Regions from separate parts of the Homo sapiens genome. Here regions 1 and 3 are each linked to region 2. The links come from fine-mapping of genetic effects on gene expression. A gene starts in region 2. Each other region holds a variant in brackets. All regions are shown on one strand. Distances are from middle to middle.

What was found.
Region 1: its variant is fine-mapped to the expression of ADORA1 in whole blood (TOPMed, PIP above 0.99). The same link has a PIP of 0.9 or more in blood mononuclear cells.
Region 3: its variant is fine-mapped to the expression of ADORA1 in fibroblasts (GTEx, PIP above 0.99).

Annotation. Positions count from the first base shown.
Region 1 is chr1:203,081,700-203,084,452 of GRCh38, reverse strand. It overlaps MYOG (myogenin), which reads left to right. Exons shown (of 3, transcript NM_002479.6): 3 at 422-1,324. The coding sequence ends at 543. MYOPARR (myogenin promoter associated myogenic regulatory antisense long non coding RNA) reads right to left here and starts at 658. Exons shown (of 3, transcript NR_160550.1): 1 at 474-658; 2 at 1-81. The variant G/C (reference allele first, on the strand shown) is at 1,691.
Region 2 is chr1:203,126,515-203,129,267 of GRCh38, reverse strand. ADORA1 (adenosine A1 receptor) reads right to left here and starts at 1,542. Exons shown (of 4, transcript NM_000674.3): 1 at 1,340-1,542; 2 at 836-990; 3 at 86-483. The coding sequence starts at 426. RefSeq lists an enhancer at 838-1,818.
Region 3 is chr1:203,198,726-203,201,478 of GRCh38, reverse strand. No RefSeq gene overlaps it. Among named protein-coding and RNA genes, the nearest start is that of CHI3L1, 13 kb to the right of the region's middle. The variant T/C (reference allele first, on the strand shown) is at 1,216.

The DNA.
Region 1 (2,753 bases), 45 kb after region 2:
AGTAGCTCCTGCAGCTCCCCAGCTGATGCCTGGTGGTTGACCTTCTCCACAGAGAGGACAATGTCCCTGCCCCAGGGGTCCCTGTGAAGTGCTGAGTCAGTGCTGCAAAACTGGGCCGAGCAAAGGGCAGGTCCAGTCTCTGGGGAGCTCCATCCTGCTCCAACTTGAGTGGCTGCTTCCAAACCCTACCTACTAGGGGAGTTCAGAAAAGAGGCGCATACACACACACACACACACACACACACACACACACACACTCACAGAGCATGGGGAAAGGCAGGGACTAGGGAGTAGAACTCCGGAGCTTTGTCATTCATCTGTCCTGGAAAACCTCTGTCACCCCAAGGGTCCCATCCTCTATTCTGGGCCTCAAGAACCCCCACTGCTCACCCAGGTACCACCTTCCCACCTCCCCTTACAGATCATCTGCTCACGGCTGACCCTACAGATGCCCACAACCTGCACTCCCTCACCTCCATCGTGGACAGCATCACAGTGGAAGATGTGTCTGTGGCCTTCCCAGATGAAACCATGCCCAACTGAGATTGTCTTCCAAGCCGGGCATCCTTGCGAGCCCCCCAAGCTGGCCACAGATGCCACTACTTCTGTAGCAGGGGCCTCCTAAGCCAGGCTGCCCTGATGCTAGGAAGCCAGCTCTGGGGTGCCATAGGCCAGACTATCCCCTTCCTCATCCATGTAAGGTTAACCCACCCCCCAGCAAGGGACTGGACGCCCTCATTCAGCTGCCTCCTTAGAGGAGAGGGCATCCCCTTTCCAGGGAGGTAAAGCAGGGGACCAGAGCGCCCCCTCGTGTATGCCCCAGCTCAGGGGGCAAACTCAGGAGCTTCCTTTTTATCATAACGCGGCCTCTAATTCCACCCCCCAAGTGAAACGGTTTGAGAGACGCAGTGCCCTGACCTGGACAAGCTGTGCACGTCTCCTGTTCTGGTCTCTTCCCGATGCCAGTGGCTGGGCTGGGCCTGCCCTGAATTGAGAGAGAAGAAGGGGAGAGGAACAGCCCTCTGTTCCCAAGTCCCTGGGGGGCCAAACTTTTGCAGTGAATATTGGGAACCTTCCAGTGGTTTTATGTTTTGTTTTGTTTCGTGTGTTGTTTGTAAAGCTGCCATCCGACCAAGGTCTCCTGTGCTGAAGTTGCCGGGGACAGGCAGGGAAAAGGGGTTGGGGCCTCTTGGGGGTGATTTCTTTTGTTAACAAAGCATTGTGTGGTTTTGCCATTGTTTTGTATTTTTTTTTTTTTTTTTTTTTTTTGCTAACTTATTTGGATTTCCTTTTTTAAAAAATGAATAAAGACTGGTTGCCAGAAGAGTGTCGGTGATGATGCAGAGGGAGGGAAATGACTGACAGCCCTGCCCCTTCCCACTGAGCAGTCCAGACACACCCTAGTGGGTGGGGCTCCACAGCGCTAAGGGCCTCATCTTGCTGGTGGTCACTAGGCACTGGGGACCCCTGCTCTTTTCACCATGATAAAGGAAATCGAGCATGTCTGGACCTCAGTCTAGGTGGAGACCAGATTCCACAGACATCCTTGTGGGACACGGAGGACAACTGGCTATGACTATACTTCAAAGCCACTGCTCACAGGCTGCTGTGCTCTGTGTTATGTCCCAACAGGTCCGCTGGTTTCAGTTAACTGAGCACCTCGTAAGCCCAGTGCTCAGCCCACAGCCAA[G/C]GTGCAGAGCTAGAAGTTGTGGTTTCCCTTCCCTAGTCCCCACCTCTGCCCTGGTGTCACAATACCAGGAGCCCTGTAGAGAAGTGGGAGGTGAGGAAGGGGGATCAGACACTGTCATTTCCTTGCGGGCCAAATAGCATGGCCCCTCCCCATTCTCCTCCATTCCCTTCAGGCCGAAGGGGATTGTGGTTCCTGCTTGCAGCTCCCAGCATGAAGGAGATTCAGATTTAGCTCGGGGAGGGTAAAGGGGTCCACAAAGAACAATCGAAGAGAAGCTGGGGTTCTCTTCATTTGGGGTGCTATTTTCAAACATTAGCTTCCTGAGGTTAGAAGGTGGGTGGGAAATTGAGAACAGAGATTTTTGGGTAGACATTACATGAGGATTAACTGGGGAGTTAACAGGAGCTAGAATTCAAACGGAACATGGACATCTACTGAAAACTTTATTAATTCCAACTGCCTGGGGCTAAGTTCATCAGATTTATTGCAAATTATAAGTTTCAGAATCATCACCGAAGCAGGGATTCAGAGCATGGTACGTTCCAGCCCTGCTTAATCCTTCGGGGCCCTTGACAACGGACTTAACCCAGTGTTGCCTGAGGCTCTAGCGACCACCCTGCACCAGCTCCGGGCTCAGCTGGGCCATCTCTCCCACACCCACCCTCCTGACCTTACTGCTGGAGAGGAGAGTTACCACTGTGCCCCCCGAGTTTCTTCAGAAACTCTGCCTAAGGAAAAGAATCAGAAGAAGCCTCTGGAGGCTCCCAGAACTCAGGCGAGGGTGCAGAAGGGAGGGTCTCCCCCACTGCCTGCTTGTCCCAAACCAGTCAGGCAGGGCTTATTGGGAATTGCAAATTGGCCTACTCTGCTCCCATTGGTGGGATTTTCTTCTTTTCAAGTTGGTATCACTGAGTTTAGTCTTTCCCCCTTGGAGGGGCTGGAGAGGAAGACCAAGGTCATTTCCATGACTCTTAGCCCTGATTCACTGCCCTGGGGAATGAGGAGGGCAACTGGGTGGGCTGCAGTGCCTTGGCTCTGGAATCTACATTCACTCCCTTATTAC
Region 2 (2,753 bases):
TATGCTCTACCTTTTTTCCTTTCTAGATGGCCCTCAAGCCAGCCATCATGTGGTGCTGCGAGTACCTTCGGCGCTGTGGACTCACCGGAGAGGGATCTTGACCCGGAGGTAGCGGTCCACAGCAATTGCCAGCAGGGCCAGGATGGAGCTCTGGGTGAGGATGAGGACCGGACAGGCAACCATGAGGCAGGTGTGGAAGTAGGTCTGTGGCCCAATGTTGATGAGGATGGCGAGGGGGATGACCAGGGCACCCACGGCCACATCAGCCACCGCCAGCGACACGATGAAGCAGAAGGTGGCATCCCGCAGCGCCTGGTTCACCTTCACCGCCCAGATCACCAGCACGTTCCCGGGCACAGAGACCAGGGCGATGAGCACCTCGATGCCGATGTAGGCGGCCTGGAAAGCTGAGATGGAGGGCGGCATGGCGGGCACAGGCTGGGCACATCAGCAGACGGGCACCAAGGGGCACGAGGCAAGCACCTGTGTGGTCAGGGAAGCCTGGGATGGGGAGACCCGTCTGGGAGGGGCAGGGAGCTCAGGCTGCCCTGGAACTCCAGGTACCCTGTGATGTGTCCCACTTGTCACATGCAGCTCCTACCCAGGCTGGAGGGGCACCCGGACCCTTCTCTGCCTAATCTTTGTCCCTTCCCTTTATCATTCCCAGAGGTTCCATTCAGCAACTTAAAATAGCAGCGCTCACTCCTCCACTGGCTTTTTTATCAGGTGTGAGGCAGCTCCCAGCGCGCGCGCACACACAGACACACGCACAGAGGGGTCTCCCATGACTGGCTCTGCCCACCCCTGTGCACAGAACAGGATGCAGGGAGCTCACCATCCTGCCTGCTGGCCGGCAGGGGTCCCAGAGGCAGTGCCCAAAGTTCCAGGGAACAGAGCTCCGGGCCGCGCGCGGTAGGGCTGGGCTGGGCTCTGGACAACGCGCGGCAGCTCATAGTCCTCCGGCTCCCGCCGCAGCGCTCCCAGCCCGGCCTTTCAAGCAATCACATGGTACGGCAGAGACTCAGCCCCGGACGCTTTTAAAGAGGTAGCGCCCCTGTTTCGCACCTGGGACTGGGGTGGCAGACGTGGGTCTGGGGACGGAGCCCAGGACAAGGCTGGGGCGTTTCTCCCTATTCCCCAGCGTGCCCGCACCTGCCCTGCGCCCACCCACTTGAGACCCGTCTGGTGCCTGGATCTTAGCAGTCCTCTGGTCCCGTTCCAGCTCTGTCGGGGAACCTTGCCCATGGCCTGCCCCAAGGGGGCATTCCGGTCTCTTCTTTCAACCCTCTCCTGCACCCCCATTGGGGAGCCCCAGGGGTGAACCGAGACTCAGACTTACCCAAGGTCACCAAAGCTGGCAGAGCTCCCGGCTGCCTGACTGTTCTGTCCAAGTGCCCCCACACCTCGACGCCTTCAGCAGCCGCTAGCTCCAGGGATTCCTGGGGAAGCCAAGGCCGGCCGGTAAGCTCCAGAGGGATGGTAGCTGGCTGGGACTCGACTCGGGCGCCTGCGGCTCTGTCGCCCCCGGCGCAGGAGCTGAGTGACAATCGGGCTCCGCACACCGGGAGGGGGCGGGGGCGGCGGCGGCACCCGCCAGCCCCTCCCTCCTCATCCTCCGTCTCCTCCCCCACCCCCTCCTCTTAACAAAGGAAGTGATACTGGGTGAGAAAAGCTGGAAAAAATGTGAGCTTTTCGAAGGGCCTGGTGTGTGCGCCCAGCCTCAGGACTGGACAGAGGCGCATCCTTCCTGTGTCCACTCTCTCCCTTCTCAATGCAGGACTCCTGGGAGCCCTGGTCTGGCCTCCAGCGACCCCTCACCCCTCACGGCACAGCATCTCTTCTGCAGGACTTCAGAATGCCCCCTCTGGGATCTCCCAAAGCAGTCGGTAGCCCTGGCACCCTCCCCCAATCCTAAAACCCTGCTCTCTCCATGAAACCAGTCCCTGCATCTTCTCATCCCATATTGTTTTGCAGGCTCTACCCTGAGTCATTATATTCCTTTCTCATCCATCTTTCAGAATTGCCTTTTAGTCTATTAGCAATTTCTATTTTGCAGATAAGGATGCTGAGGCTCAGGGAAGTGACCTAGCTTCCCAGGATCTCCTGGCAGTGTAACCCGCTCTGCGCTCCTTTTCCTTCCTCCTTCTTCCTCTTCATAGCACAGCGCTAAGCCATAAGGCATCCAGTCCAATCCCCTCATGTTACAGATAAAGAAGCAGGCTCAGGGAAGCAAGGGACTTCCGGAGGGTCACAGGGCAAATCCTAACAGGACCAAAATAAGAATCCCAGGCTCCTGACTCTCTCCACTGGGTCCAGACCCCTCCCCTGGCCACCTTCTGCCAGTTTCGGTTTAGGCAGTCCACTGATATTAACTAATGACCAGACCCTGGACATGGATGGATGCCTCGCAGAGATCCCAACCTGAGAAATCCTTGTTTGTGGGTATTGGGCAAGGGTTCTAGGAAGGCAAAGAGAGTCAGGCTGGGGACCCCAATGTTAGCTAGCCACAACCCAACCTGGCCTCTGGGGGTACTGCCCCCCTCACTGGATCTCAGAATGCAAGGAAAAGGGTTCTGCCCAGAGGAGGGTGGGCACGTTGCTCCCATTGGGGGCTGCACTGAATCACAGTGAGGAATGATGTGGGACCCGGAACCTGGGTAGCTGGGAGGCAGGGAGGAAGGGCAGTTGAGTCTTCTGAGGAGGAGGGGGAAGCCCTCTGTGGGGAAAAATAACTTCCATTTCTGCCTTTAGGG
Region 3 (2,753 bases), 72 kb before region 2:
GCTAAAGGTAGGACCCCCTGGGTGGTTCCTGGTCCCTCTATTCCCTCATCCTTTTACATCCAACTCATCTGTAAGTGTGCGGATGTTCCCTCCAAGGAATGTCCATAGTCCACCCTTCTTTCCACCTCCACGTCCCCAGCCCAGGGCAGGCCACCGCATCTCTTGCCTGGACCTCTTTAACAGCTGCTTATGTTCATGCCTCTTCCACTCTTGCCATACCACAAATCTATTCCCTACAGAGCCACTAGAGTGACTTTCCAAAACATAAACTCTATCCTGGACTACCTGCTTAAACATCCAGTGGTGTCCCATTGCACAGAGGACAAAACCCCTCTGTGGTTTCCACAGGCCCCAGGACACAGACCTGCCTCTCTCCCCGGGGCCTCTTGTCTCTCCCCACATCCCCAAACTACTCTAGCCAGCTGGTCAGCTTGCTTGTGCTTTTCTCTTTTTTTTTTTCCAACACACTAAGCTCTTTCTCACCTCCAGGACTTTGCATATGGTGTTCTCTGCCTGGATCATTTTCTCTCTTCTTGAGGTAGCTGACTCCCTCTCATCCCTCAGATTTCTGCTTAAGATCACCTCCTCGGAGAAGCCTCCCTGACTGTCCTAACTAAAGGAGGTTCCACTCCTCACTCTCCCCACCCTAGCCCAGGACTTGGCACCTAATAGGGGCTCAGTAACTCTTTCCTGAAAGAATGAACACATGCTGCCCTTAGTCCCTGGCAGACTCCTGTGAGCTCTTTAGTTTATCCTTCTAAGCCACCAAAGATTCACTCTCCTTTCCGCTTATTTTTACGTTTTCTCAAAACTTTCCTCATAAACACCATATTGTTGAGTTTCTTTCTCTCCCTAAAATAGCTGCAGAACTGGACAAAGACTGGCTATCTGCTTCCTAGCTGTCCCTTTCAGTTTCAGGGTTTATGTGCTAGTCATTGCAGGGGAGCAGTGGGGAGAATGGAAAATTACCAACAAGGAGAAGTGGCAGAATCCAGGGACTGACCGTGTTCTTACACCCGTGGTCCTCAGTCTATAGTTAGCTTCTGACTTCCTTTCTTGGCAAGATCTATACCAGCTATCTAGGACAGTCCCAGTTTCAACTGTTCTGTCCTATTGTCCCACTGTGTTTCATGAATTTTCTTACAATATTGGCTCTCTCTCTTTTTCCTCCCACTCTCCTTTTATCCCATGAGGGCAGCCTTACTTAAACAACCC[T/C]CGCACTCAGTGTTGAAAGAGCTGAATTCAGTTCAAGTCTTGCTCAACCACATAAAATGTGCACGACTTTGGGCAAAGCACTGATCCTCTCTCAGCTTCCGTTTGCTCACCTACTGAGAGGGATAAGGCCAACACCTCCATTCCAGCATTCGGCAGGGCGGGTTGTGACTGGAATAGCATGTGTTGGGCACTTGGCACCCATAGCAAGTCTCCCTTGCCCCTCAGGATGAATAATGGAGTGAATTAGTCTTTCAGCCAAAAGACTCTGGGCTCCAGAGAGTAATGTAATGCTTTACCCAAACAGTGGAAGTGTGGAAGTGATGTGGATGTTGGGGGACTGTTATATTCTCTCGGTTCAGCTGTGGCCTGAGTGATGAGTCAGGTCATGTCTGTAGATAGAGAGCTCTGTCTCCACAAAGAGGAGGTGCCCAGCTCCAATCCCTGGGGAAAGGTTGTATCTTTATTGGAAACCAGAGCTCAGAAGACTAGCCTTAGGGAGATGGAAGAGGGCCCCGACTTGGGAGCAGGGGTGCATCTTTCAACAGGGGTCCCTAAACAGATGGCGCCCTCCGTATGGAATCAGGAGTCGAGCATAGCTTGAACGTCTGACTGTCCAGGACCCACCTCAAAGCGTGCACTTCCCCTGCCTCACCCTCAAGCCTCCCCTGAGTCTTATCTGAATGCCTTGGCTCAGGCTCTGCTTTTCAGGGGGAGGACTGTGCCACCTCCTGGGCCAGAGTGTTAAGGGGTGACCAGTGCCCCTGAGACCACCTTGGCTACAACCTCTCAAGGGAAATGTGCATCTTGGTGAATCCGAGGGACAGGGTAGGGATCATGCAATCCAGCTGCTTCTTTCTCCCCACCAGGGAGGTCTTCATCCAGTGCCAACCTGGGTAGGTCTGCCTCGAGCATGTTTTTATTGAGGAGCTGGCACTTTCTTTCAAATGTCAGGGGCATTGAAGACCACGCAGGTTTCACCTCCTCCAGGCCCTTGCCTAGCAGGAGAAAGGTCACTTTCAGGCATGTCCTCACACTCCCTGCACTCAGGTTTGCCTTGGGCCATGCCTGGTCAAAGGAAGCCTAGAGACTGGGCTCCAGTACAGGCTCTGTATTTAGCAGCCAAGTGACTTGGAAAGGTCACCTGCTCTCTGCTTCCTCATTGTCAATGGAGAAAACAATCTCTGTATTAGTTTTCTGTGGCCGCTATAACTAATTACCACAAATTATAATGGCTTAAGACAGCACATATTTAATGTCTTACAGTTTTTTGAGGTTACAAGCCTAAAATAAGTTTGATAAAGCTAAAATCAAGATGTCCACAGGGCTGTGTTCCTTCTGGAGTCTCCAGAGCAGAATCTATTTCCCTGCCTTTCTAACCTTCTAGAAGCTGCCCGCATCCCTTGGCTCGTGGCTCCTTCCTTCATCTTCAGAGCACATCACTCCTACCTCTGCTGCCCTTGTCACATCCCCTTTTCTGTGTCTGACCCTCCATCATCCGCTCATAAGGACCTCTGTGATTATATTGGGCCCACCCAGAT